Linked DNA regions of Homo sapiens. The protein of the gene in region 3 purifies or fractionates together with the protein of the main gene of each other region. This does not show direct contact. Each region holds a gene or a part of one and is shown on either strand. Other genes may lie near its edges.

The links.
Region 1: the proteins of AGPS (region 3) and SCCPDH fractionate together in Homo sapiens (co-fractionation; one large-scale study listed by BioGRID). This does not show direct contact.
Region 2: the proteins of AGPS (region 3) and TOMM6 fractionate together in Homo sapiens (co-fractionation; one large-scale study listed by BioGRID). This does not show direct contact.
Region 4: the proteins of AGPS (region 3) and OGDH fractionate together in Homo sapiens (co-fractionation; one large-scale study listed by BioGRID). This does not show direct contact.
Region 5: the proteins of AGPS (region 3) and PRDX3 fractionate together in Homo sapiens (co-fractionation; one large-scale study listed by BioGRID). This does not show direct contact.
Region 6: the proteins of AGPS (region 3) and POR fractionate together in Homo sapiens (co-fractionation; one large-scale study listed by BioGRID). This does not show direct contact.
Region 7: the proteins of AGPS (region 3) and EMC8 fractionate together in Homo sapiens (co-fractionation; one large-scale study listed by BioGRID). This does not show direct contact.

The regions. Positions count from the first base shown.
Region 1 is NC_000001.11:246,730,298-246,734,490, reverse strand, and holds part of SCCPDH (saccharopine dehydrogenase-like oxidoreductase), read right to left. Parts: intron 1-4,193.
Region 2 is NC_000006.12:41,785,724-41,790,395, reverse strand, and holds TOMM6 (mitochondrial import receptor subunit TOM6 homolog), read right to left. Parts: upstream 2,703-4,672; 5' UTR 2,699-2,702; coding exon 2,571-2,698; intron 1,165-2,570; coding exon 1,068-1,164; 3' UTR 1,060-1,067; intron 866-1,059; exon of another isoform or gene 829-865; 3' UTR 501-828; downstream 1-500. Other genes in the region: PRICKLE4 (prickle-like protein 4), read right to left, coding at 3,267-3,634, 4,064-4,268.
Region 3 is NC_000002.12:177,395,458-177,399,650, reverse strand, and holds part of AGPS (alkyldihydroxyacetonephosphate synthase, peroxisomal precursor), read right to left. Parts: intron 4,078-4,193; exon of another isoform or gene 3,973-4,077; intron 1-3,972. UniProt on the Homo sapiens protein: Catalyzes the exchange of the acyl chain in acyl-dihydroxyacetonephosphate (acyl-DHAP) for a long chain fatty alcohol, yielding the first ether linked intermediate, i.e. alkyl-dihydroxyacetonephosphate (alkyl-DHAP), in the pathway of ether lipid biosynthesis.
Region 4 is NC_000007.14:44,671,934-44,676,126, reverse strand, and holds part of OGDH (2-oxoglutarate dehydrogenase complex component E1 isoform 1 precursor), read right to left. Parts: intron 2,341-4,193; coding exon 2,186-2,340; intron 1,717-2,185; coding exon 1,570-1,716; intron 950-1,569; coding exon 859-949; intron 158-858; coding exon 1-157. UniProt on the Homo sapiens protein: 2-oxoglutarate dehydrogenase (E1o) component of the 2-oxoglutarate dehydrogenase complex (OGDHC). Participates in the first step, rate limiting for the overall conversion of 2-oxoglutarate to succinyl-CoA and CO(2) catalyzed by the whole OGDHC.
Region 5 is NC_000010.11:119,168,555-119,172,747, forward strand, and holds part of PRDX3 (thioredoxin-dependent peroxide reductase, mitochondrial isoform a precursor), read right to left. Parts: intron 3,932-4,193; coding exon 3,828-3,931; intron 789-3,827; coding exon 623-788; intron 1-622. UniProt on the Homo sapiens protein: Thiol-specific peroxidase that catalyzes the reduction of hydrogen peroxide and organic hydroperoxides to water and alcohols, respectively. Plays a role in cell protection against oxidative stress by detoxifying peroxides.
Region 6 is NC_000007.14:75,980,756-75,984,548, reverse strand, and holds part of POR (NADPH--cytochrome P450 reductase), read right to left. Parts: intron 3,502-3,793; coding exon 3,377-3,501; intron 3,033-3,376; coding exon 2,943-3,032; intron 2,326-2,942; coding exon 2,227-2,325; intron 1,030-2,226; coding exon 913-1,029; intron 812-912; coding exon 693-811; intron 1-692. UniProt on the Homo sapiens protein: This enzyme is required for electron transfer from NADP to cytochrome P450 in microsomes. It can also provide electron transfer to heme oxygenase and cytochrome B5.
Region 7 is NC_000016.10:85,789,545-85,793,044, forward strand, and holds part of EMC8 (ER membrane protein complex subunit 8), read right to left. Parts: intron 3,390-3,500; exon of another isoform or gene 2,753-3,389; coding exon of another isoform or gene 2,678-2,752; intron 1-2,677. UniProt on the Homo sapiens protein: Part of the endoplasmic reticulum membrane protein complex (EMC) that enables the energy-independent insertion into endoplasmic reticulum membranes of newly synthesized membrane proteins.

The DNA.
Region 1 (4,193 bases), on a different chromosome or scaffold from region 3:
CAGTATGGTATCATGGAACAAAGGATTTCAAGGCAGTAAGACCCAAGTTCACACCTGGAATCCATCACCTACTAACTATATGAATTTACTTATAAATCACTTAAATTGCCTACCAAATGAATAAAACACACATTTTAAACATATTTAAATAGAACTAAAGTTGAGATTAAAACAGAAGTTGAAGCTCCATATGCTTTCTGCACCCAGTGGATTATCCTGGTTGATCCTTAGGGTTTGCACACATCCATTTTAAAACTCATTTGGAGCTTTCTCGGCCTTGTTCTTAAGTTATTTCACCCCCAAATTTCTCAAGTTGGCCATGAGTCCACCTGCTTTAGAATCACCTGGGTTGCATGCTGGTCACTCACTCCCACTCCAGACCCCCAGAATCAGGCTTTCTGAGGTAGACTCCAGTAACTTGCATTGTAAATAAGCCTCACAGGTGATTCTTGTGTACTTCAAAGATGGAGAATCACTGCCCCAGACATTCTCCCAGGAAATCTCACCTACTCTCCCAACTTCAATAAAATCTGTGCTGTGACCTCCAACCTCTATGTCTAGAGTTGCTCACTGATAGGATTTCCCTCTGTTTTTTGTTAGAAAGGTCAGGACCAGTGAGAGCACAGGACATGTAGCATGAGTCACACATAAAACTAATTTCACTTTGCCTACATTTTCCTTTTATTTTCTCTTCCCCCTGATTTTCTCACTTACTTATAAAACATCATATACAAACAGTATATTATTTGTATTTTCTGTCTTGATGCAAGGTATCTAGCAGACACCTCAATTTCAACAAGTCTAAAACCGAATTCATCATCTCTCTCTCTAAACCTATTTCTCCTCCTCCACTTCCTAGCACGTGCTTCAATGTGTAGCCTCTAGGCCAGGTGTGGTGGCTCAAACCTGTAATCTCAGCACTTTGGGAGGCTGAGGCAGAAGGATCGCTTTGAGACCCCATTTCTCTAAGAAAAAAAGTGTGTGTGTGTGTGTGTGTGTATAAAATATGATGCTACGGACTATATATAGAGGCCATATACTTATTATATATATATATTATACATATAAGGACTATATATATATGGCATATATATATAAACACATGGCCAGGCACAGTGGCTCACGTCTGTAATCCCAACACTTTGGGAGGCCAAGGTGAGTGAATCACTTGAGCTCAAGAGCTAGAGACCAGCCTGGGCAACAGGGCAAAACCCTGTCTCTACAAAAAATACAAAAATTAGCCAGATGTGATAGCACCAGTCTATAGTCCCAGCTACTTTCAGGGCTGAGGCTGGAAGATCCCTTGAGCCCAGGAGGTTGAGGCAGCAGTGAGCTGTGTTCGTGCCACTCTACTCCAGCCTGGGCAACAAAGTGAGACCCCCATCTCAAAAAAATAAAAATAAAAAACAAAGTATAGCCTCTAGTTCAGCCTGCCTGGGTCCCACTTCTAACATCTTTCTGTTGTGCTCAAAAGAGGGAAGACTCTGAGACAAAACTGAGCAAATGGCTGAACAGCAGAGTGGTCTAGAGTGTGGGCTTTAAGTCAGGCCACACTTACATCCAGGCTCTGCAGCCACTAGCTGTGTGACCCTGGGCAAGTCACTTTACCTCTCTAAGCATCAACCTCTTCAATCAAAGAATGGTGATGAATAACAACACTCACTTCCCTGGGTAGTTGTGAGGATGAAATAAGAGAATACAAAGAGCTTAGTGTGGGGCCAGGCACATGGTACTCAGATGGCTTCTTTTTTTTATTTAATGGCATTACTCCCCACATAATTCTCAGGTTAAAACCTGGAAGCAGGCTGGGTGTGGTGGCTCATGCCTGTAATCCCAGCACTTTGGGAGGCCGAGGCAGGTGGATCACCTGAGGTCAGGAGTTCAAGACTAGCCTGACCAATTTGGTAAAACCCTGTCTCGACTAAAAATATAAAAATTAGCTAGGTGTGGCGGCATGAGCCTGTAGTTCCAGCTACTCAGGAGGCTGAGACAGGAGAATTGCTTGAACCCGGGAGGTGGAGGTTGCAGTGAGCCTAGATCGCACCACTGCATTTCCGCCTGGGTGACAGAGCAAGAACCGCCTCAAAAAAAAAAAAATCTGGAAGCAGTCTTTCATGCTACCTATCCTGGAAGTCACCAAGTTTTATCAATTCAGTTTCCTAAAATTATCTCAAATCAGTCTCCTCTCCCCTGCACAATTATATCTTAGTTCAGACCCTGTCAACACTCATCTAATTTACTATAAATAGGCCCTAACTGGTTATACTGCAGCCAGCTAGCCCCATCTCCAAATACATAACAAATTGTTATTCTAAAATAAAAATGTGATGTCACCTTTCCTCCTGCCTCACTCCTATAACATATCCACTCTTCAAATCTGATAGACTGGATTAAGAAAACGTGGCACATATACACCATGGAATACTATACAGGCATAAAAAAGGATGAGTTCATGTCCTTTGCAGGGACATGGATGAAGCTGGAAACCATCATTCTGAGCAAACTATCACAAGGACAGAAAACCAAATACCGCATGATCTCACTCACAGGTGGGAACTGAACAATGAGAACACTTGGACACAGGGTGGGGAACATCATACACTGGGGCCTGTCGTGGGGTGGGGGGCAGGGGTAGGGATAGCATTGAGAGAAATACCTAATGTAAATGACGGGTTGATGGGTGCAGCAGGCCAGCATGGCACATGTATACCTATGTAACGAGCCTGCATGTTGTGCACATGTACCCTAGAACTTAAATAAAAATAACAAAAACAAAAAAATCCCTACAGTATATAGTACAAAGTCCAAATTTCTTAGCATGTCACAGAAAGTCCTTAGTATCATATCATACCACAGCCCCTTAATTCTCATGTTCCAGCAGTTCTAAATTCCATGTAATTCCCCAAGCATGCTGCTTCTTCACACCCAGTGTGCTTGCTTCCACTACCTGGAGCACCCTCCCTTCATTCTGCTGGGCCAACTCCCAGCTCCTCCAGGCTCTGCCTTACAGCCACAGGCTCACTTCTCATGTCTGGCTAGTGAGCCCATCAGCTAGGCAGTGTATCTATGAGTACTGGCAGGCTGCAGTGAAGTATTAATGAGCTTATTAAAATAATCGTAGCTCCTTCTGGAAAGAAAACGCATTTTCCTATTTGCCAGTCTGCCCATTCCTTACTTTTACTGCATTTTGTCACATCTGGCCCACTTCTTTGAGTAATCTGGAGTTGAGACTTCTCACTAACTTATTCCTATTTTATGAACTTGCTAGATTTTTCTCCACTTAGTACCCTGTGCTTGTCTGAGACAGGTGAACAGTCAGAGTAGCAATCCTTCATCTCGGGGAGACACTTCTCCCCTGTGAGGCCAATTGGCTCAAAGGTCAGAACCGCAATCCTGCTCTCCATGTCTCATCTTCTTCTTTTTTCTTTTTGAGCTGGAGTTTCATTCTTGCTGCCCAGGCTTGAATACAATGGCGCAATCTCAGCTCACTGTAACCTCCGCCTCCCGGATTCAAGTGATTCTCTTGCGTCAGCCTCCCGAGTAGCTGCAATTACAAGTGTGTACCACCATGCCCAGCTAATTTTTTGTATTTTTAGTAGAGACAGGGTTTCACCATGTTGGCCAGGCTGGTCTCAAACTCCCGACCTCAAGTGATCTGCCCACCTCAGCCTCCCAGAGGTTTGGGATTCCAGGCATGACCCACCGCGCCTGGCCCTCAAAGTTCCATCTTCTAACCCAGTGGTCTCCCAAGTAGTCTTCCCCTAAGGGAAGCGCAGAATGATCCACTGAGGGTGGAAGTAAATATCAGAACTTTTATCCATGTTAATGTTTACAAAAACATGACGTTCCGTTAACGGTTACTATATGGACTGACTACGAGACATTCCCTGGGCCATGTTAAGTGGTCATGTGTTGAAGACAGGACACAGCAGGTATCCTGATGGGGTTGTGGGAAAGTTTCCATCACACAGAGAGGGCCTCAGCACCACTCTTCATTCATTCAGTCGTTTTCACTTTACTGCAACCTAATGCCTGAATGAGGTTATTGAGGTTCTAAAGCTTAAACGCTGAGGCCTCAAGCATTTAGAGTGGGGAGGACAAAGACGCAGTGGAGGAGACGAGGACTTCCAGGGTGAAGCTGGTGGACAGGAGGAAAACTACGAGAAGATGACAACGTAGAAGCTGAGCAAAGA
Region 2 (4,672 bases), on a different chromosome or scaffold from region 3:
CCAAACCCTGGACAGTAGCACTACCATGAATTTTAGGGTCACAAAACATTTCCTTCTGAAGGAAGCAGCTGCCTCAGCAGTGTCACTTTAGTGACCACTGCCCAGGCTTACTTCACTTTGCCTCCCCCTACACATCACTGCCCTCTTTCTGCCACCAAACCTCACTATTCCAGCAATGATGCCTCCCTGGTGTCTGGAAAACCCATCTGGTGCACTAAAATGCTATGCAACACCAAATGGCTTCTTCCCCTAATATTGCTCAACAATGTAAATTCTTCAAGAATAAACTTCATGCTAGGTTAACATCAATGTATGGTTACAGCTTCCTTTTTTTTTTTTCCCTTTTAAAATGAAGCAAACCACCTCCATTAAAATCCATGTTTTGGGGCTTGTTTTTGTCTCTCAAGTGTGAAATATAAATCATGTTTTTATGATTTTTGTAAATCTTTTTACACCTTGTTTTTGTAAGCAAAAGTTTCTTATTAAAAGAATAAAATGACTGCCTTTGTGTGCGGTATTTATTTCAAATGTTTTTTAAAACAGCACTGTTATTTCTCAGGACAAGAGCAAAAATCACCCCCTGCAGAAGCTTGGGAACTATGTACAGAACTTTACAGAATAGAGGCAATACTTTAGCTTAAGCCTGTCTGCTGACCAGAGAATGGAATTCTGCGTGGACTCAAGGAACAAAAGGAAACTAGGCAGGGAAGGGGAAGAAAAGTGCCCATCTGAATCAAACTTCAGCTGCCATCAGGGCACATCTTGTGGTGGTCACAGATTGTAGGCTGTTTTTTGGAAGATTCGGGTTCAGCACAGGATTCCATTTGTCTGCAATCAGATGATAAGACGACAGGTGGCATTAGAACTGTAAAAGTATGGGAGGGAAACTGGTAAGAGATACTTAAATCCCTTTCAACATCTGAAAACACATTTAACTAGGAATAGTTAAGGGTTTTACATCACATTCTTTTGTACATTTCATGAATACTTGACAGAAAACATTGCTTCACCCAGTCTCTAGGTCTCCTAAGACACGCATGGGTGTAGTTCAGTGCTTACCTACTTGGCTACACCCCTGGCTGAGGTGCCATGAGGTCAATGTCACTCAAGTTCCTGGCCAGCCAAACTCCCGCAGCAAAGAGTCCCAAATTTAGTATCAAGTTCCTGGAAAAACAATGTGTTTTATTAACCCTGTGGTCACTGAGTCAGTTGTACAGTTAACGAAATGTACTGGGGGGAAAGGCTTCCATCACCACCTTCCCGAGGCGTTGATACGTGGTTGTGACGGCAGGTTGCTCAAGACCCACGTGGGAATTTGGAGTTCATTTTTGTGCCTAGTAAGTGTAAGGTCAGGCTGGGCGCGGTGGTTCACGCCTGTAATCCCAGCACTTTGGAAGGCCAAGGCAGGCGGATCACGAAGTCAGGAGCTCGAGACCAGCCTGGCCAACATGGTGAAACCCCGTCTCTACTAAAAATACAAAAATTAGCTGGGCGTGGTGGTGCGCGCCTGTAATCCCAGCTACTGGGGAGGCTGAGGCAGGAAAATCGCTTGAACCCGGGAGGCGGAGGCTGCAGTGAGCTGAGGTCCGCCACTACACTCCAGCCTGGGCGACAGAGCGAGGCTGTCTCAAAAAGAAATAAATGTGGCCGGGCGCGGTGGCTCACGCCTGTAATCCCAGCACTTTGGGAGGCAGAGTCGGGTGGATCGAGAAGTCAGGAGTTTGAGACCAGCCTGCCCAAGATGGTGAAACCCCGTCTCTACTAAAAATACAAAAATTAGCTGGGCGTGGTGGCGCGCGCTTGTAATCCCAGCTACTGGGGAGGCTGAGGCAGGAGAATCGCTTGAACCCGGGAGGCAGAAGGGGCAGTGAGCCGAGATTGCGCCTCTGCACTCCAGCCTGGGCGACAGAGTGAGACTCCGTCTCAAAAAAAAAAAAAAAAAAAAAAAAAAAGGCCGGGCGTGGTGGCTCACGCCTGTAATCCCAGCACTTTGGGAGGCCGAGGCGGGCGGATCACGAGGTCAGGAGATCGAGACCATCCTGGATAACACGGTGAAACCCCGTCTCTACTAAAAATACAAAAAATTAGCAGGGCGTGGTGGCGGGCGGCCGTAGTCCCAGCTACTCGGGAGGCTGAGGCAGGAGAATGGCGTGAACCCGGGAGGCGGAGCTTGCAGTGAGCCGAGATCGCGCCACTGCACTCCAGCCTGGGCAACAGAGTGAGACTCCGTCTCAAAAAAAAAAAAAAAACAAAAAAGAAATGTAAGATCAAACGCAAAGCCCAGCTAAAGCACTAGTCCAGGGCCGAAAAAGCCTGTTTACGTGCTAGCACTTCTTCCCTTGATCAGGGTGACATTACAGATACAGCCACATGACAGAAAGATCGCTTTTGCCACACGGGAACTCTCCTGGCCAGGGATCTCAGTGAGGCACAGCCAGAGCTACGAAGACGCCACAATGCTGGTAATGTTAAAAAACAAAAACAAAAAACCCTGAGGCGCCAGCCTCGCAAGAAAGGGGAAATACGGATTTAAGGGCCAGAAAAGGACCAAGTTCCTCGGGCTCGGTTACCTCCGGAAGTCATTCCTATCAGTGGCAAAGCGGTAGACGCCCCGAAGCCAATCTCCCACGTTGTCCGGTATTTCGGGAGTTTCATTAGCCGAGCCAGCAGCGCTCACCGGGACAGTGCTGGAAGCCATAGTGGAAAGCTTCGCATGGGCCTCGGTGGAGGAACCGTATCGGCGTCGCCGGTGAATGACGCACCTCCGGTCTGGCACTTCCGGCTGCTACCGGCCGGCAGTGGGGGCGCTGTTCGCTTAGTCCGACATCCGGAAGAGGGACGGCCCTCTGCTGCGCCTCCACGAACTCTAGGAGGGGAGGAGCGCGGCCCGGTTCTACGGTCCCCTGCTCCCGGTCCCACCTCCGGCTCTCCAGCCGGTAACTGTCACGCGTGCTGTGATCATTTAATTGGCTTGGGAGGAGGATGGTGGGGACGGGGCTGTCCCAGCCTGTGGAGGTGGGGGTAGGGGCTATCTCAGCAGGGGAAGCGTAGCTTTGGGGAATGGGTTTTGCCAAGAAAGTCTCCGCCAAAAGTCTTAGAACGCGCAGTACTGAAGGGGGCGCACTCCAAACTTGTCACCTCGCCGCCTCTTGCGGGCGTGCGCCTGACTGCGTCTCAGTCTAGGATTGTTAGGGGGAGGCTAGCCTTGTTCTCCCGCTTTACAGACCCCTTTCCTCCCACTCACATCCCCTCTCTGAGCTGCGCCACTAGCACATGGTGCAGTGCGTCTTAGAGGCGTTGCTGTCCTCTGCTTGGAGGCTTCCGGGGGTCTTCCAGGACTGGGGAAGGCGCTCGCCTAAGAAAAATCCTTCAGGTTCCGAGTCAGAGGAGGAGGAGCAGGTGGAGAAAGGGGTGTCCTTGGGATCACGAATAGTCTCCAGGCGGCATTGCTCCTGCCCTTTGGGTGCCTCCGCTTTGTCCCCAGGTCGGTTCTCCTGCTGGGGACTGGATCCAGGCAGCCCCCTCTGAGTTTGCAGGCTGGAACCGCCGGCAGCAGCGAGGAGTGTTCGGGAGAGGGTTGCAGAGTTCACCGAGGTTTGGTCCCTTCCTTCAGTTCGGTCGAGTCCAGTCTCCCCTGTTCCGGGCCGGGTCGGAAACGCTGGTCTCAGAGCCGCGGAGCTGGACCTACACCGCAGCTAGTGGGGGTGAGGCCCAGCCTCCCGCCCCGCCCAGCCCCTGGGCCGTGCGCGCCGCCGCCGCCGCCGAGAGTCCTCGCCAGGGTCCCCCGCCTCCACCAGAGGGCGTCCGCCTCCCGCGCCTGGGAGGGAGTCTGGCGCCGCAACCCCGACCGCGGCGCGGGGTGGGTTCGGGCGGCCCTTGGAACGCTCCGGCCAGGGATGCGCGGTGAGAGCTGCGGGCCCCGAGGCTTGGGTCTGGGGGGTGCGGTGGGGGCGCTCCTGGAGGGACGGGACGGCGTGGGACCGGGGCGAGGGTCCCAGCCCGGGAGAACCCCCACAGCCCAGCCCAAGCTCCCTCCCGCTTTGCTCTGCATCCTCTCCCTTACCAAGGAATGCCTGCCCTTCCAGTGCCCCGGCCCAGCTCGAGCCTGCATCCGAGTAGCGGTTCTCGAAGCAGCTGGGGCAGCAGGGGCTTCCCCCAGGCAGGGCATAACGTCCCCCGCCCAGAGGCCCGGCGCAGTCCTGGCAACAGAAGTGGTTCTCATGCCAGCGCTGTCCCTCCGCCTCGGTGCAGCGCCAGGAGAAGATCAGCTGGGAGAGGGAGAGGGAGAGGGGAACGTTTCATTCATTCATTCCCTCATTCATTCATCCAGTAACCACGCCTTTTACCCAGTTAACGCTAAAGCACGTCTGCACACATTCCCATTTAATTCACTCAGCCACTTTTGGACGCAGGGAGGACTGATTGGCTTAGCCAGGATCCCAGCTAGCAAGTGGGACAATCCCCAGTGCGACCTGGGGGTCTGGACTCCCAACCCAGGGCTCCAGGCTTCCTTTTATGCTGACATCAAGGGAATTTCTAGCATGATGAGGCACAGCACTGGGCACTCGGCATCTACTGAGATGAGCATGTGTCCAAGACTCCCTGCTCTAGAGAAATTCGATGAGTCCAGGAACATTTGAGGGACTCTGCAGTGGGGGAGGCCAGAGAGAAG
Region 3 (4,193 bases):
CTCTCTACTGTTTTGGTAGCATGTGTTAGGCTCTACACCTGCAGAGGAGGCCTTCTGTGGTACACTGCCTGTGATGGAGTGTAATTCAGGGTAAATATTAGGTAGTACAGATCTAAGCCACGATCTCCAACCAGCATTATCAGTAAAAAAGCTAATGTTTTTACCTCTCTGTCTGTATCCTGTGTCTTATCTCTCAGTTGATTCTGAGCCCAGATGTTGGGACAAGGATATGACAAAATATCACCCCCAAGACCCAACAAATAAAGAGAACACTAATAGGCAGAGAGCTATTAATACTTTATGCTACAACGGTAGACTCTAGTCATGATCCCTTGATTTGGTTTAGGGTTGAAATTAACATACTAATCGGAATAACAGCAGAAGTTATCTTCTCAATAATAAGGAAATAAAATCAAACGGAGTAATATTTGCTTAGCACTTGCTTTTAAAGTGTTCCATAAAGTATCTCATCTGACTACAACAGCAATCCATTTCTCTGCAGCCTAAAAACAGATCACTTAATTCATTCTCAGGTATTTTTATTAAATGACCACAAGGGTAGATGGCTCTATAGTAACTTCCCAACATAAAAAAGTCTATGTAGAGAAGGTCTGGTCCATCTTAAAATGCAATCTAGAGAAGCATATTAACAAATAACCACAGCGATTAAATCTTCAGTTTCCTGTTCATTCACAGTCCAAAGACAGTTTGCAACTAGGCAGTAAACCCTCCATGACCTATTCTCTTTTCCTCCTTTCTTCTCTGATCTTGGGTCTTCCACATTCTTCCTAATTCCCTTTCATTCCAAACACTGTCTTCTTCCACAAGTCAAATGGCAAAATGCACTCACAAAAGTAAACTGGCTGGTCTACCTTTTTAAACCACCCATTACATTTTCTTATTATGAATTTCATTTTGACAGAATGATGTTTTATAATTTATTAAGTACAACATAAACTAATGCCTTCTTAACTATATGACAAAGTATTTGATCATGATCTATTTAATCACAAAAACTTTGAAACTTAGCATGACAAAGACAGCAACTTGATGAATAGTAAGTAGATATCTCCCCGGGAACATCAGATGTGGTAATCCAGCATAGAGGAAAGAATATGGACTCTGGAGCAAGAACAGAGTTGAAATGCCATCTCTTTCATTTCACAAATGCAAGGCCTTAGATAAATTAACTTCTCTAAGCCTCTAGTTCCTCAACTGTAATGTACATATAGTATCACTCATTTTTCAGAGCTGTTGTGTGAGATTTAAATGACATAATGTACATAAGCTTTAGCATGGTTCCTGTCATATTAGGACTTAGTCAATTAAAACTCCTATTACTACTATCACTAGAATTCCTAGCTAGGAACTCAAAATAGGGTAAATATTTCATTCAACATAACTACCAAAATAAGCTCGAATTTTGCCAAACGATGTTAAGTTTTAAGCCAGGTCACTTGTGCAAATAACCTTTGCTCTGTATCAGCTCTTACAGGCTTCAGGATACCCTCTTGGGAAATATTTACAAGAGGTTAACTCAGCTGTATTCCTTCTGGAAAATATCTACCAAAGCTTCCGGCAGATGTTAAATAATACTTTTTTGTTTTGTTTTGTTTTTTGAGACACAGTCTCGCCCTGTCGTCCAGCCTGGAGTACAATGACGCAATCTCAGCTCACTGCAACCTCTGCCTCCCAGGCTCAAAGCAATCCTCCCGCCTCAGCCTCCCCAGTAGCTGAAACCACAGGCCTGTGCCACCACACCAGGCTAACTTTCTTTGTATTTTTGTAGAGATGGGGTCTCACCATCTTACCCAGGCTGGTCTTGAATTCCTGGGCTCAAGTGATTTGCCTGCCTTGGCCTCCCAAAGTGCTGGGATTATGGGGTGTGAGTCACCATGCCCGACGTTAATATACTGCTTTTTATTAAAATGGCATTTGTAAGTGACATTATAAGCAAGTAGACTAAACAATTAGTGGCGTTCTTAATCATTCTTTTGACCTGAACATTTATAACCTCCGTAAAAACTGCCATTGAGCAGTTCTGACTAATGCAAACCACAATGAGGTTGGAGCCAAAGTTATAACTGGGAAAGAGGTTAGCAGTGTGGAAGAATGAAAGTTAACATGGTATTTTTTCTTCTCTTTTTCGTAAGACCACAAGAGCCTTAAAAAAAAAAAAAACTGAAAAAAATCCAAAACCAAGACGTAAAAGTGTCACATATGTAATTGACATTTACTATGATTTTTAAGGATCTAAAATTGCACTTAGAAGCAAAGTCAAAAGAAAAACTGTACATGGGTAACATGCACTTAAGGAAAAAGGGAGGATCCAAGAGTAAACTGTCACTTCAATACTCTGCTCAGCAACTTCAAATAATGAGAACATATGTTCCGGGATAGAAGTAATTGGAGCCGGCCAGACGTGGTGGCTCATGCCTGTAATCCTAGCACTTTGAGAGTCTGAGGTGGGTGGATCACTAGGTCAGGGGTTCGAGACCAGCCTGGCCAAGATGGTGAAACCCCATCTCTACTAAAAATACAAAACTTAGCTGGGCACAGTGGCAGGCTCTGTAATCCCAGCTACTCCGGAGGCTGAGGCAGGAGAATCGCTTGAACCCGGGAGGCAGGAAGTTGCAGTGAGCTGAGATCGCGCCACTTCACTCTAGCCTGGGAGACAGAGCAAGACTCCATAGCAAAAAAAAAAAAAAGAAAAGAAAAAGAAGTAATTGGTGCCAACTTCATAGGAGACCATGTGATAAGTAAACAGCAGGTTTTGTTTGGTCAGCCCTCTGAAATGTCCACATTCCTCTGGACTGTGTCATCCCTTTTCTATTGTCATTCAGTCTCCAAACTCCTGTGGCATTAATTTAGTTACATAGTTTTAAAGTGTGATTAAACTTTAATGGTGTCACCTAATGAACTTCTAAAACTCTCACACACATCATTTCCTCCCTATTCTCATTGCCATCATCTTAGTTTAATTCTTCATTATTTCTCGCCTATTGTGTTACAACAGCCTCCTCTAACTGATCTCCTCTAACTGATCTATGTCCATCCTTACCGTTCTCCAATCCATTCTTAACACTGTAGCTGGAGTGACTTCTCTCAAACCCAAACCCAATCTGATCATGTCTCTTCCCAGCTTAATTCCTTCAAGGGTTCTCTATCACCAAGCCCCTTCAGCTGCTTCATTTTTCTTTATATTTATCACTACCTGACATACTATATTAGTTGTTTGTTCACTGTCTCCACTCCAGCTAGAATATAAGTTCCATAGGGCAGAGTTTTTGTTCACTGCTATATTTTATAAGCATGAATGAATGCATGAACGAATGGACTGATAACCCACAAGCCAAAGACCTCCATGACCTGCCACTGCCCTCCTTTCATTTTATTCTCACCTCTACCAATACTAAATCACCTAGTTATGTAAATACGATATGCACTTTCATGGCCCCTTGCTTTGTCATATGCTGTTCCCTTTGCCTGGAATATAAACTCTCAAAATACCATCCACATTTTAAAATCTTCTCCAGAAAGCTTCCTCTGACCACCCCCACCCTCCCACCCCCATATAGAGTAAGTCAGTCTTTCCTTTGTGCTACATTTGTACCTGTATCTACAGTGGCTCTAATCAAACTGCACTGTGTCTCTCACTTCCTAGATTGTGAACTCTTTGAGGCTGAAGACTACTTATTCATCTCTTTACCTCCAATGCCTAGGACAGGACCTTCATAAAGCAACTACTCTATAAATGTTGAAACATATGCATGACTATTCTGTAACAGGAATGAAAATATGGCATTTCAAGAAGTCACTACTCCAGGCCATGTGATATAACCAACCATGTGATAAAACAACCATGTGATAAAACAATTACAAGCAATGTTATCATCCAAAGTAATAAAAGGGAAGGAATAATACACAAATCACAAAATTATTCCAAAATAATTGACATATAGGCATACTCACACCTTATTAGATATATACTGTGGTTCCTTCTTCCTCTATCATTTATCTTCCCTTTAGGCTGGATTCTGTAGCTGGCAACTGCAGGCCCAGCTAAGTAGGAAGTAGAAGGGAGACTTGGGTTCCTCATGATTATCTATCAAGTATATCACCCTCTGTGGAAGCTTTTGATGTGTCATCTAATACAAGTTTCTGTGTTCCCTCATATTTTGATGAAAATCTCA
Region 4 (4,193 bases), on a different chromosome or scaffold from region 3:
AGTAAAACTGTTCGGCTTTGGTCTTGCCCATCACCACGGGGTCAGCGGCCTCAAGGTGGGAAGGGTTGGCCACCAAGGACAAGGTAATGTTCCTGTCGGTGACACGATTGATCCTGCGGTGATACATGCCCAGGTGGTACTTCACATCTCCGGAGCCCTGATGGGGTAAACAGTGAATTTGCACCCTGGCCAAGGAGATGCTCAGTCTCCAAAAGAGCCCTTTTATACGGGAATTTTTTTTTTTTTTTTGAGATGGAGTTTCGCTCTTGTTGCCCAGGTTGGAGTGCAATGGCGCGATCTCGGCTCACTGCAACCTCCACTTTCTGGGTTCAAGCGATTCTCCTGCCTCAGCCTCCCGAGTAGCTGGGATTACAGGCATGCGCCACCACGCCCGGCTAATTTTGTATTTTTAGTAGAGATGGGGTTTCTCCATGTTGGTCAGGCTGGTCTCAAACTCTCGACCTCACGTGATCCGCCTGCCTCAGCCTCCCAAAGTGTTGGGGTTACGGATGTGAGCCACCATGCCCAGCCTTATATGGGATTTCTACTCCCAGGAACCCAACGCAGAAGGATATGGAGGCCTTTTCCCAGGATCATTCCCATCCAGGGCATAAGGAGAACGTCCCTCAGCCAGAGGGGACACACCCCTGCACTCAGAGTGGGGCTGCTGGACCTCTGACCAGGAGGTGGGCCACTGGCCACCTTTGTCCCAACACTAAAATTCTCCCAACAAGGAAGGCAAATCACAAATGGTACAGAAGAACCAACCCCCCGTAAGTCATTCTAAGAAAGAAGTGGAGCCAGGGGTCTTGTGTAAGTTGGGGCTATGCTGGATGTGTCTCTATGCAGGTGCCTCACCTCATCAGCTGCCTCCAGCTTTGAATCGAATTGACAGAAGATCTGTTCCAGCTCCTTCCTGATGACATTTGCAAGCACGTTCAGCCGCCCTCTGGAACGTATGGGCGAGTAGGGTGAGCAGAGCCTGAGGTCATGGTTTCCAGATGGCAGATGAGGGTGTTACAATCCCCCCCTCCCCCTCCCCCCAGGACACGGCACCTCCTCGGTTTGCAGCCCAAGGATAGCTGTAAACTGGAGCTAATGTGGGAACCGAGCCTCTCCGTGCTGGGCAATCAAGGCCACAGTGGGCAGCAGAAAGATAGAAGATGCAGCAATGCCATGGGCCTGAGGCTTCCTTACCCTTCTCCCTCCCCACACCTTCCCTATTTTCACAGTCTTGGCCTCCCCTTCAATGTCAGGAAGCAGCCTTCCCTCCAGGTTAGACCCCAACAAGGGAACTTGGGTTTAATTTTCATAAAGATGCACTGTAAGGCCAAATGCCAGTCTGAAACTACATGTGGCTTTGGAGGTGACCATGACTTTGCAGTCCTCCAGAGGCAGGCAATGTGAGAATCCCCTGCAAAGCAATACACCCTCAGGTACCAGATGAGCCCAGACTCACAACTGGCACTCAAGGAGGAAACAGCTGCTCTCTCAGTGCCTTTACCTGGTGCCTCCTACACAGCCCACAGGGATGGTGAGAAACCAGGTTGGGCGCGCCCTTGGCTGTACCTGTGTGGCATGCCCATGATCACGTAGTCCACGCCATTCTCACTAGACTTGTCAATGATGGTCTTGAGGGCAGGGATCAGTACCTCGCAGCCTTCTAGACCAAAGCGCTTCTCAGAGGACCACTTCCGCTGTAGGAACTCCTCAAACCTGGACAGGGAACCAAGCCACCTTGAAGGGCAATGTCACTCTTCCTGACCAAAAAGAGGGGATTCTGGCCAGGCATGGAGGCTCACACCTGTAATCCCAGCACCTTGGGAGGCCGAGGTGGGCAGATCAGCTGAGGTCAGGAGTTCGAGACCAGCCTGGCCAACACGGTGAAACCTCATCTCTACTAAAAATATAAAAATTAGCCAGCCGTGGTGGTGTGCCTCTGTAATCCCTGCTACTCAGGAGGCTGAGGCAAGAGAATCACTTGAATTCAGGAGGCGGAGGTTGCTCTGAAGGCTGACTCTACTTGTCTGGTGTCTCTTCACACATGTGCAGATGGAGCTTTGCCTGTACCACCCCAAACCCCCTCTCACCTCGGCCAACAGGCTGCACACAGGCCCGATCAACACAGACAGGGTCACTGCTTCCCTGGGAATGTCTGCCCCATGGCCCAGGGCCAGACCCATACCTGGTGGACCGCACAAGCCTGGCCAGCAGGGTCCGTTTCTCCTCATTTGTGAACTGCATGATCCCAGGGGTCTCAAACTTCTGCCGGATCCACTGGCACTGCTCCAGGTCATTGATGAACATGAACTCCACCCCAATATGCTGGCAGTAGGCCATCTATTCCATACAGAAACACACAGTCAAGGGGATTTCTAACCAGGCCTGGCTGAATGAAGACTGCCGACTGCCCATTCAGCCAGAAGGAGGGGATAAGCAGGAGGCTTGTTCTGAAATGTACTCCAATCAAGTGTGACTGAGGATGGGATGGAGTGGGTGCCAGGCAGAAGCCCTCTTCATAGGGTCATGAAGTGCTTCCTTCAGGGACCTGGGTCACTTGTACACAGAGAACCTCCTAGCCTTCCAAGGGCAGGCCAAGGGACAACCCCAGTTCTACTCTGTTACCTTTGTGGCAAGAAGCACAGACCGCAACAGTTGTGGAACTGGGTCCTTCCCCAGGGAAGACAGGCTGTCATCAAGGTCAGACCTGTACCAGCACCCATGACAGGAAATGCCCATAGGGTGTCATAGGCTCAATGGCTGTTAAAGATTTGCAGGTTTTAAAAATTATTTATTTATTTATTTATTTTTTTGAGGCAGGGTCTCTGTCATCGAGGCGGGAGTGCAGTAGCGCTATCAGAGCCCGTTGCAGCCTCAACCTCTTGAGCTCAAGTGATCTTCTTGCCTCATGTTTTGAATTTTTTGGAGAGATGAGGTCTCACTATGTTACCCAGGCTGGTCTTGAACTCCTGGGCTCAAATGATCCTTCTGCCTCAGGAAGCAAGATTGCCCATAAGACAAAAGTCAGGATCCTGAGCAGATCAAGATGTCCTGTACCACGTTCACACTGCACAGCTGGGTGAGGAAGCAGCATCCAGATCTGCAGAGCTCGGCAGGGAGGAATTCAGGAAGAGGAGAGGTGCCAGGAGCGAGAGGAGGCACCAGGCTCTTAGAAGTCCATCTCGGGGCCAGGCGCGGTGGCTCACGCCTGTAATCCCAGCACTTTGGGAGGCTGAGGCAGGCAGATCACAAGGTCAGGAGTTTGAGACCAGCCTGACCAATATGGTGAAACCCCGTCTCTACTAAAAATACAAAAATTAGCCAGGTATGGTGGCATGTGCCTGTTATCCCAGCCACTCAGGAGGCTGACGCAGGAGAATCGCTTGAACCCAGGAGGCGGAGGTTGCAGTGAGCCAAGATCATGCCACTGCACTCCAGCCTGGGCGATAGAGTGAGACTCCATCTCAAAAAAAAAAAAAAAACAAAAAACAAAAAGAAATCCCTCTCGGGCTGCCCTCATCCTGGTACTCCTGCAGAGGCCCAAAACTCGACCTGCACAGCTGCCCTGGAGGACCAGAATGAGAGTCTGAGAGCAAACTGCAAGTCAGCATGGAATAAAAAGAAGATAGGCCCTAATGTGGGCCAACAGACACTTTACAGACCCCCAAAGCCTCCTCTAACTGCCTTTACAGCAGCCACTGCTGCCAGAGTACTTAGAGTGTTAGGTCCTGCTCAGCAGCTCTCATCCATGACCCCACTTGGTTTTCACAACAGACAATGAGACCAGCTGGCATGAGCAGTTAAAGGATGTGCTGAATCTGAGACCAGCCCTGTTCTTTGCAGAGGAGGGTGGGCTATCCCTGTACACAAGCTCCGTGACCATGAAACAAAGCAAACTTTGCCTAAACTCAAAATTATGGCCAACCACAATACTCTAGTTATTATCCAAGTCAACAGAAGAAAAATCTTGCCTAGGAACTAAAAGAGAAAGTGCTGCTGGGAAAGACCCTAGTATTTAAGGTTTTTTTTTTAATTAATTAATTAATTTATTTATTTTTGAGATGGAGTCTTGCTCTGTCACCCAGGCTGGAGTGCAGTGGCACAATCTCGGCTCACTGCAAGCTCTGCCTCCTGGGTTCACACCATTCTCCTGCCTCAGCCTCCCAAGTAGCTGGGACTACAGGCGCCCGCCA
Region 5 (4,193 bases), on a different chromosome or scaffold from region 3:
TAGGTAACTGTGACTTTACCATAATAATAGTCCCAAAAGTGAGTGGCAATCTCCCAATTTTTAACCTAAAGTTCTTTAAACTTTTAAAGATTTCCTTTAAAACATAAAGATGAAAGTTTCATTAAGGCCTGCCTGTCTCTAGGCCGGGCACGGTGGCTCACGCCGGTAATCCCAGCACTTTGGGAGGCCAAGGCGGGTGGATCACGAGGTCAGGAGATCCAGACCATCCTGGCTAACACGGTGAAACCCCGTCTCTACTAAAATTCAAAAAATTAGCCGTGGTGGTGGGCGCCCTGTAGTCCCAGCTACTCAGGAGGCTGAGGCAGGACAATGGCGTGAACCCAGGAGGCGGAGCTTGCAGTGAGCTGAGAGAGCGCCACTGCACTCCAGCCTGGGCGAGAGCAAGACTCCGTCTCAAAAAAAAAAAAAAAGGCCTGCCTGTCTCTGATAATTGGTTCCTGGCTCCCCACCCCACCCCCTCTACCCCACAGCAGCTTCACCCATTTGCATATCATCTGCACGCTTGCTTCAAGAGTGGGCTCCCTTTTGTGGATATTTCAGGTCAATAGCTCTCGAGGCTGAGAGAACATGGACCTCACTGCTTTTGGGGAAAAAAACCTACCGTAGGAGAATCCGGTGTCCAGTTCGCTGGGCAGACTTCTCCATGTGTTTCTACATACTGGAACGCCTTCACCAAGCGGAGGGTTTCTTCCACGCTTCGGCCCACTGGGAGATCGTTGACGCTCAAATGCTTGATGACTCCATTGGGGTCAATTATGAAGAGACCTCTGCATGATCATTTATCCTCATCAGTGCCTCAACAGTACCAGAACTAGAACAGTCTAACTTCTTCCCTTTTAGGTCTTTAATTCTCCTTTTAATAAAATATTTATTAAGCGTAATCATATGCTTAAAGGTGGGGTTTTCACTGTTGTGCAAAAAACTTATCATCTCTTACTGATGACAGATGCTTTAACAAAGGCAGTACTGGACCAGGTCACCATAAAACATGCAGTATGGTCACACTTACAAGTTCACATAGTGCCCTGAATGTTACACAGTATCGGAAAGTCACTGAACTAGAGAGAGCAAAGACTATTAGTGACTTGGCAAGCATTCTTTGAGCTGCTGTATCACATCTTGGCAAGAAACTTATAGGCAAATGGGAAGAGACAGAGGTGTATTTTATCTAGGTTCAACAACTGTTTATTATGAATGAATTATTGGGTAAATGGGGGGAAATCCCACGGGAAAAATCTTCATAGAAAGAATGTACAGGCTCTAAGTCTATGCAAAACAGAAAACCATGCCCATCACTTTTAATCATGTAGCAGCATGTAATGAGATGAACCACGCTACCACAGTGGTCTGTGTTTATCTTCTGTGTTGGTGTTACTGTGACAGATGCAGATATGTTTAGCCTAGAAGTTTTTTTGGTTGTTTGGTTTAAATATAGGGTCTCACTGTATTGCCCACGCTGGAGTGCAGTGCTCTTCTCAGGTGTGATCACAGCAGGCTGCAGCCTCGAACTTCTGGCTCAACTGATCCTCCCACCTCAGACTCCCAAGTAGCGTGACTATAGGTGTGTGTCACTGTGTCCGGTTATTTAACCTACAGGTTTTAACAGTCTGTCTTAAAAGGATGTGGAAATTTCAGGTATCAATCACTCATGGAAAAGGCAGGTTAGAGAAAACTCAGGATAAAAGATGCTTCTCCCTCCCTGGGTCAGGCACTGGGAGCCTGGGGTTTGAGGTGAAACTGTTCCCAGAGGGTGCAGCCAGCTGAAGTCCACCAATAGAAGGTGAGGCAGAGCTGGGACAGAGCAGGGCCCATAGACTCCCAAAAGTCTTTATCTTATAAGCCAGACTCAGCTTCTCTCTCTTGTTAATCTCAATATTAAAACGGGTACAGAGGTAACTGCAAAATTAGTGAGTTCTCATAGGGAAAGGGACCGTAGGAGAAAAATAGCCAGTACCCTTTCTCTGGCCATTGACAATTCTGAAAGACCTAGGCATTCGTTTGATAATCTCTTTAAAGTTTAAAAAAAAAAAAATGGTCTGCCAGGTGCGGTGGCTCATGCCTGTAATCCCAGCACTTTTGAGAGGCCGAGGCAGGCAGATCACGAAGTCAAGAGTTTTGAGACCAGCCTGGCCAACACGATGAAACCCCATCTCTACTAAGAATACAAAAATTGGCCGGGCGTGGTGGCGTGTGCCTGTAATCCCAGCTACTCGGGAGGCTGAGGCAGGAGAACTGCTTGAACCCGGGAGGTGGAGGTTGCAGTGAGCCGAGATCACGCCACTGCACTCCAGCCTGGGCGATAAAGCAAGACACCGTCTCGAAAAGAAAAGAAAAAAAAAAAAAGAGAGGAAAAAAAGGCCCAAACTCTAAGATGCCACTCAGCGCTAAAACCCAAGGTGTAACCCAAGAAAGAGCAGGCCAGAGGTCACCTACAAGACAGGCAGGTGAGCTGGCTTTGTTTGTTTGTTTGTTTGTTTGCTTTTGAGACAGAGTCTTGCTCTGTCGCCCAGGCTGGAGTGCAGTGGTGCGATCTCAGCTCACTGCAAGCTCCACCTCCCAGGTTCACGCCATTCTCCTGCCTCAGCCTCCCGAGTAGCTGGGACTACAGGCGCCCACCACCACGCCCAGCTAATTTTTTGTATTTTTAGTAGAGACGGGGTTTCACCATGTTGACCAGGATGGTCTCGATCTCTTGACCTCGTGATCCACCTGCCTCGGCCTCCCAAAGTGCTGGCATTACAGGCCTGAGCCACCGCGCCCGGCCAGGTGAGCTGGCTTTAAGCTGACCAGCCCCCAGCAAAACTGTGAGGCACAGCACATCAAAGGGGGATCCCCTCTCTTCCTTCCTGGAGGTCAAGTTCTGCCCTATCCCTCCTTCACTCCTATTCTCAGCAGACTTCAAGATGCCAATTCTAAGACCCAAGTTCTCATCCCTCCCAGGAAGGTTATGTTTGAATGTGGGGCTGCTGAGGACTGAAAGCTTTTCACACTCAAAGGAATAAAGGTTTAATAAGGGACTGAATACAGATAGAAATGATGTTCTGGGGCAGAAATCCTAACAACTGCTGCCAGTAACTATGCTAAAAACTCTAGCTGTGTCACTATTTAATCCTCACACCCACCTGTGACGTACCACCTCATTTTAGTTATGGGAAAACTGGGGCTCAACAAGGTTAAATCAAATCAGTTGCCCAAAGTCACACAGCTATTAAGTAGCTGAGTTAAAAAAAAGAAAAACTCAAACCAAGGATTGTTTGGTTCCAGGGCTGAAGATGGTCACCATTCCAAGAGACTACCTCTTACCCTGCTAGTCCCCCCTTCTGCAGAGTCTGATGGCTTCAATGTCAGGTGTGTGTCCCCATGGAAGTGGCTCCCACATAGTTAGGGAGTATGGAGCAGTGTGGCCTCAAGACGCAGCCAGCCTTCTTCAGAAAGAGACCCAAGGTGGTGGAGGGGACATGCATGTCTCAGCATTTCTGAGAGACCGCCAACCCTTGCAGGAGGCATTTCATCAGTGTTTATTAAAGACTAAAATTAAGGATTGATTATTATAAATTTTAATTCTTTTTAATATAATAGGGATGAGGTCTCACTATGTTGCCCAGGCTGGTCTTGAACTTCTGAACTCAAGTGATCTTCCCGCCTTGGCCTCCCAAAGTGCTACGATTACAGGCATGAGCCACCATGCCCAGCCAGGATCTTCTGGTTTTAAAAATGCTTTACCAAGGTCTACATAAATCCCCTAAGAAGCAGAATGATACTAAACATGAAAAATAATCTTAAGTTCATCAGAAACAGGATCTTACCTTAGTGCAAGACCAGAACCTTCTAACAGCACACCGTAGTCTCGGGAAATCTGCTTAGTTAAGTCTGACAAGAGTGCGATGTTCATGTGGCCCAAACCACCATTCTAATCAAAATGCAAACATGACTGTTAGAATGTGTGGCCTCACAACATTCTTGACCACGTACCACAATGTTTGAGACCAACAGTAACGGCGATAGGTAACAGTAATTCAACAACGGGCCAAGCACTGCTTACTCTATTAACCTACTGCCTCCTCGAAACCACCCTGGAGAAGACACTATCAAAATGAGGAAACTGAGGCAAGAAAAACCTAAGTAACTTGTTCCAGGTCACAGCTAGAAAGGAGCAGAAGGAAGATTTACAC
Region 6 (3,793 bases), on a different chromosome or scaffold from region 3:
TGCGGGGGAGCCCCTGCACACTAACGCACCCGCTGTGCTTTCACCGCACACTACACGGTCTGACACAGCCCCGCCCAGGCTTCCCTACAGGCGGGCTGTGGAAGCCGACAGTAAGGGCAGCCCTGGCATGGCAGCTGAGGACCGGCAAGCAGGGGTGGGGCGAGGTGGGCTCGGCCCAGGTTGGTGACCAGTGGGGTCCGAGGGCTTCACAGCGGGAGGCTCAGGCTGGGCAGCCCCACCAGGCCCAGGCAGCCCCGCGTAATGGCTACTGCCACTCGGCACCACTGTGCACCCTTGGGGGCCTGGGAGGGCTGCTGACTCCTGACTTCAGTGAGGAGGTGGGGGCAGCCCCAGGCCGGCAGAGGTGGGTCGTGGAGCCAGGCCCTCCTTCCCAGCAGGACACAGTGGCCATGGGGGAGCCAGGGCTGCCTCTGCCACCAGGCCTCAGCACCTCACTCCCTTAAAGGACTATGACAGTGACGGGGTAGGGGGAACCCCGACAGAGAGGGCTAGACCCCTAGGGCCACCCCGCCTCCCGTTTGCTTGGGATCCTGTAACCGTGGAGTCTCGGTGCAAGGGCCTCCCAGGCACCGGGGCTTCAGGCCTAAGCAGAAGCTCAACCCAGGGCCTTCCTACAGGCCCAATCCCGCGGCTGCCTGAGCCCGGCAGGGCGCCCTGACTGTGGCACTCACCATCCAGGTTGTTCAGGGACATGACGACGTCCAGGTCGGCACCCAGGATTTTGCCCAGCTGGTTGACGAGAGCAGAGTCGTTGGCTGGGTACACAGCCACGTGGTCCCCAGATTCATACCTGGAGGGAGATGTGAGGCTCGGGAGGGGCGGAAGGCTGGCCCTGCCCCAGGTCAGGAGGCCCAGAGTGAGGGTTCAGGGGGTGACAGTGGCAGCTGGTACCTGATTTTGGAGTCCGAGATGTCCAATTCCAGGTGCATGAGGTGGCGCTCGGTTCCCTGGTTCAGCTTCCGGTTGGTGGTGACTGCAGCCAGGAACGGATTCTTGGCATCAAAGGGGCTGGGTGGGGAGGAGAGAAGCACAGTGAGCGGCCGGGGCTTTGATCTGAGTCTCCGTCTCCAAGGACGCTTCTGGTTGCACAAAGCACAGGGAATCTCAGAGATCTCCATGAGGAAATCTCACCGGTTACATCAAGGGCTCTCCCAGCCTGGTCCAATGCAGTTCTCTTTTTTTTTTTTGAGACAGAGTTTCGCTCTGCCACCCAGGCTGGAGTGCAGCGGCGCGATCTCGGCTCACTGCAACCTCTGCCTCCCAGGTTCAAGCAATTCTCCTGCCTCAGCCTCCTGAGCAGCTGGAATTACAGGCATTCGCCACCATGCCTGGTTAACTTTTATATTTTTACTAGAGACGGGGTTTCACCATGTTGGCCAGGCTGGTCTTGAACTCCTGACCTCAGGTGATTCACCCACCTCGGCCTCCCAGAGTGCTGGGATTAGAGCTGTGAGCCACCTCGCCCAGCCCTAATGCAGTTCTCTCTATAGTCCCACCACATGGGCAGAGCTGGGTCATCAGTGTCTGTTTACAGATGTGGAAACTGAGGCTGGCCCCTAAAAGAACTGTGAGGCCCAAGCTGACGGTGCCACAGGCTGGAAGGTGGCTGGTCCCCAAATGAGGAGCACAGCTCCCCCACCCCCACACGTCCTGGACTACACCGTGGACAAGAGAGAAACTTGCACTCCGGAAAGCCACCGACATGCAGGGCTTCTCGCTCCAGCCAGGCTGGGGCAGGCCTACAGAAAGCAGGGCAGCTGGTCTTGGATGCAGTGGCACGAGGACTTCCCTGGGTGGCTCGGGCAGGAATCTGGGCAGCAACCAGGGGCCATCAAGGGCACAGAGAGGAACGCCAGGTTTCTCCCCCAAGTCTATCTATGGAGATAGATTCTAAGAAAATGAGCCCTTCTGCCAAAGAGGATCCTAGCCACAGAGGCCAATGCACTGTCCTAGTCGAGAAGTGGGATGTGCCCCGCTGCCCTGGGCAGTGCAGAGTAAGGTGGCTAAGTGAGCTCAGTACAAACTGGGCGAGTGCCAGTCTCCTGGGGCCGGGCCGTGGACAGGTCGTGGACACTCACACCCACTCGGGGCACGGGGTCTGGTGAGAAGGGCCCTGTGGGGATATGGGGATACACGGCAGACTGAGCCTGGGGTGCACCAGTGGCCATAGAGCCGTCTGCCCCAAGCCACGCTCCCTCCACTCACGGCTTCTGGTTCTCGTAGCTCTTCAGCCGGCCCATCTCCCCCATGTACACCTTGGCCGCATCTATGTCGGTGTGGACCACAAGCTCGTACTGGCGAATGCTGGAAAGGGGAGACCAAGGGTGAGGCCGGGAAGCGGCAGGGGTCAGTCCCGAGAGGGAGGGGTTGGACTACAGGGGAGACCGTGCATGGCCTTTGGGGTGAGGTCCCAGGTACATACGACAAGAAGCAGGGGAGCCCCTGCTGCAGATGCACAAGGAGGGCAGGCGAGGGAGCAAGGAGGGAGGCGGCGTGGAGCTGCCGGGGGCCAGACGCCCAGAAGCCGGGGCAGGGCTGGGCAGGCTTCCATCTGGGAGAAGGTAAGGAAGCCCGGGCAGCACCCAGGGGCCATCAAGGGCACAGAGAGGAACGTTATGTTTTTGGCCAAGTCTGTGGAGGCAGATTTTAAGGAAATGAGCCCTTTTGCCAAAGTTGAACCTAGCCACAGAGCCCGACGCGATGTGTCCTTGTCGAGAGGTGGGATGCACCCCGCTGCCCCAGGGCAGTGCAGAGCAACGTGGCAGAGTGAGTCCTTGGCTGGGACCAAGGTCCCTCCTCGACCCTATGACGGAGTGTCTTCTAACCTTGCTGCGACCCACTGCCAGCCCTTGTTCCAGGGTGGCTGCCCTCGGCACAGGACCCGCCCAGGCCACCCACCGCACCTGCGGGCACTTGCTCACCTGGACTCCTCGCCAGTGGCTTCCACCCCAAAGTGTTCACACACGGCCGGCCAGAACTGCTCTCGCCAGGTGATGAAGTCCTCCTCCAAGCTGGGCCGAGGAGAGGAGAGGGGGAGCGGCTCAGGGGAGGCCCATGTGGCAACGGTACCTGGTGCCAGGCACGCCCCGACCCCACCCCATCCCCAAAGCTCAGGACTGTGCACCCTGGGGCACCCAGCGACATAAACCCAGAGCATCAGGAAGGCTCCAGGGAGTTGGGCAAGCCGAAAAGCAAAACTGGCAGGGGCAGGGCAGAGGCAGGAGAGCCCCTTCCCTCTGTGTTGGAGGTGCGTGTCGCTGAGTCTCAGCTGACACAATGGTGTGCGCGCCCCTCACGTTCCACGGCCCCTGCCTAAGCCCGCCGCGCTGATCATGGTGGCAGGGTGGGCACTCACTTCCCATCGTCGTCGCCCAACCCCAGCTCAAAGATGCGCTGGGCGCCGAGCTGCTCCAGCCGCTTGTCCACGTACTTGCCCATGGCATTGAAGTGCTCGTAGGTCTTGTTCCCAAGACCAAACACCTGCGTGGACACAGGGGCCGCTCTGAGGCCTGGCCCTCGACCTGACCAGTGGGAGGGGCCATGGGGGCAGGGCGGGAGGCCCCACAGCACTGGCTGAGCTGCTGGCAACACCTGCAGGCCTCCGTTCCACCAGGCGCCTCGCACTGCAAGGAACACTGGGCCACTGAAGAGGCTTCATCTGGTTGACCTGCAGCCCACAGCCTGCCCCGTCCACTGCCAGCCTCAACCCACAGGGAAGCGGGGCCAGCCCACCCTCCCCACCGGGCTGGGGCTCCAGCTCTCCGAGGCCAGG
Region 7 (3,500 bases), on a different chromosome or scaffold from region 3:
ACTTTGGGAGGCTGAGGTGGGCGGATCACCTGAGGTCAAGAGTTCGAGACAAGCCTGGCCAATGTGGAGAAACCCCATCTCTACTAAAAATACAAAAATTAGCTGGGCGTGGTGGTGGGCGCTTGTCATCCCAGCTACTCGGGAGGCTGAGGCAGGAGAATCACTTGAACCCCAGAGGGGGAGGTTGCAGTGAGCCAAGATCATGCCACTGCACTCCAGCCTGGGTGACAAGAGTGAAACTCCGTCTCCGTCTCAAAAAAAAAAAAAAAAGTCTTTTATACTCCATCTCAGCATTCTAAGCACCGCATCATGAAATACCCCTCAGTTGGGGTGTAGGGTAAAGAGGTCCCAAGTTAGGAAGGGGCACGTGCACATGTCCTTAGTTCTCTCCGGCGTGCTTTGAAATGGAAGCAAGGTGGCAGACCTTTGAAGTTTTTGGGTTTCTTTTATGGTACCATGTTTCTCACCAGATGCAGCTTCCTGCAGGTCTAAGGCCATTATTCAAAACAACAAAAGCTCATCCTGTTTTGGCATAATGGAATTTGAATACACTGTAATAAAGTCTATTCTCAGTCTGCACAAGAGGAAACAAAATTGGTACCTTGATTTTTTTTTTTTTGTAGGGAATAAACTGGTTAAAAATGGATGTGTGTGTTTTTTAAACACAATCCTATTGCTCTTTTTCCTAAATTCTTGTTTGGGCCTCTGAGTCTCCTTCACGACCAAAAGCAGACAAGACAGTTACAGTCCAAGGGTCCCTGCCTTGCACAGGATTAGGATATTTCTGGCCTCCTAAGAGTTCACGAATTACCATATTGGGTCAAAACCAGGGCTCAGTGAACCAACTAGACATTCTGGTCATCCACCCAAAAGATCAGGATTATGTCTGTAAAATATCTATAATGGTGCTATCATTGTGACTTTGCTGAAAACAACTCCAAAACGACTCATATTTTGTTTCTATCACCTCTTAATGGAACAGATTCCAGAAGCTTTCTATTGCTGCTTAGAACAAACATCTCTATACACTATCAAAGGGGCTTGCTCTAAATTTGGTCAAGTTCCCTGATGAGCTGATCCTTGAGCACCGTGCTCCCAGCCTTCATGTGCCATCATGGGCCGGCCTCCTGAGTGTGTCCTCCCCTAAGGTGACCCACATCTCTGCCCCCCGGGTGTCCCTATCCCTGCTCTCCAGTGTAGCCTGCCCTTATTTTCACAGTCAGATTGGCCACTGTCTTAGTTTCCTATTGCCCTTGTGACAAGTTACACATACTTAGTGGCTTAAAACAACACTTTTTTTTTTTGAGAGTCTCGCTCCGTTGTCCGGGCTGGAGAGCAGTGGTGAGATCACAGTTCACTGCAGCCTTGAACTCCTGGGCTCAAGTGATCCTCCCACCTCAGCCTCCTGAGTAGCTGGGACTACAGGTGTGCGCCATCCTGTCTGGCTAATTTTTAAATTTTTTGTAGAGACAAAGGTTTCATCATGTTGCCCAGGCTGATCTTGGACTCCTGGGTTCAAGCAATCCTCCTGCCTTGGCCTCCCAAAGTGCTGAGATTACAGGCACAAGCCACCATGCCCAATTTTTTTTTTTTAAGGCAAGAAATAAATTTTATTGAAGGATTTTTCACCATCCATAGAGATTATCATATGATTGTTTTTCTTAGAATTTTTAATGCATACATTTTTTGGATTTTCTAACTTCAAATTCCCTAATTTCTTCCATTTCTGAAATAAACCGTACTTGATTAAAGTGCATGTTTTATTTTTTAATTTTTATTTAAGTTCTGGGATACATGTGCAGAATATGCAGGTTTGTTACATAGGTATCCATGTGTCATGCTGGTTTGCTGCACCTACCAACCCGTCACCTAGGTTTTAAGCCCCGCATGCATTAGCTATTTGTCCTGATGCTCTCCCTCCCCTCGCTCCCCGGCTCTGACAGGCGCTGGTGTGTGATGTTCCCCTCCCTGTGTCCATGTGTTCTCACTATTCAACTCCCACTTATGACAACATGCGGTGTTTGGTTTTCTGTTGCTGTGTTAGTTTGCTGAGGATGATGCCAGCCAAAATTTTTTATCTTACTGGTCAGAAGTCTATAATGGGTCAGCAGAGCTGTGCTTCTTCAGGATGCTCTAGAGGAGAATCCTTTTCCTTGCCTTTTCCAGCACCTAGAGGCTGCCCGCATTCCTTGGCTCATGGCCACATCACTCTGACCTCTGCTTCCATCATCCATCTCTTCCTCTCACTCTGACCTTCCTGCCTCCCCTTTACAAAGGTCTTTGTGATTACATGAGGCACACCCAGGTAATCCAGGATATTCTCTCCACCCTCAAGCCCTTAACTTAATCACATCTACAAATCCCTTTTGCTACATAAGGCCTGGGGATTAGGATGTGGACATATTTGGGGGGTTATTACTCAGCTGACCATACCATACAACATTTTCTAGGAAAAACCATAGGACATATTTTTTACTTAGCTACAGGCAACTTCCTGAAGACCCCCAGCAGCAGTCTCAGTTGGCTACTCCATCTCTTTCCTGGGCTGAAGCCACCTGGTTAGGACTCATAGCCCAGTAAACACATATGGTATCACCTTGTACCCACTCTCAGAGCACAGAAACCACCTGGTACAAAAGATGATTCCTATGACAAACACATGTATATCTCAACTTACATTTTGCCTGCTGAGGGACAAATTCCTGTAAGAAAACTCCAAGGGCCCAACCAAATTCCAGCAGAAAAATGTCATGACCTGGAACTTTAAGTAGAACCTCTTTGAAGAGGTTGCCCTTAAAGCGAACCAGGTCACAAAAGCTCTGGCCTGGCTTTAGAATTTAGAACTTTTGAATGACACACATGAGAATAACCAAGTTAGCTGTATGGATGGCTATGAGGGGTGCACACAGCCCGTTCACCAACTGAGGAATGGAGAACTCGAAGGGAGGAACGGAGACTCGGCCAAGCCTCAGCACTCACAGCGGCAGGGTGGATGAGTTCTAATAAGGGTAGTTTCCTGTGACAGTCCGGAATCTGGAACTAGGCATCAGGTGAGAGTGCCCTGGAGTGGAGTGGGCTGGGGGAAGAGGATGGGGCTTGCTGGTGGTGTAGGTGTGGGTGTGGCAGCCAGGTCTCCAGTGGCTGCAGGATCCTGCCCTCAGCCCAAATGGCTCCTGCATGAAAAGCTGCGGTGGATCTAAGTGGCAGCTAGGAGTCAAGGCAACTAGCTTCCTCCGAAGCGAGGCAAGACAAGGCACAGCCGAGAAGCCACTCAACCTCTGTTCCCAATGAATCCATTTCCATGTCCCTGCTTCGCTGTACGACACCCCACACCCTGATGTGCATCTTGTGAAAAATCAAGATGAAAATAAAAGGTCAGGAGAAAACTCTGTGGAGACTGTTGTCAATGTAGTCAAACTGACTCTGATATAGACACCTTCCGCATTCTGCACTTACTCATGCAATTTCATTTACTTTTTAGAGAGAAAGGACATTTTCAC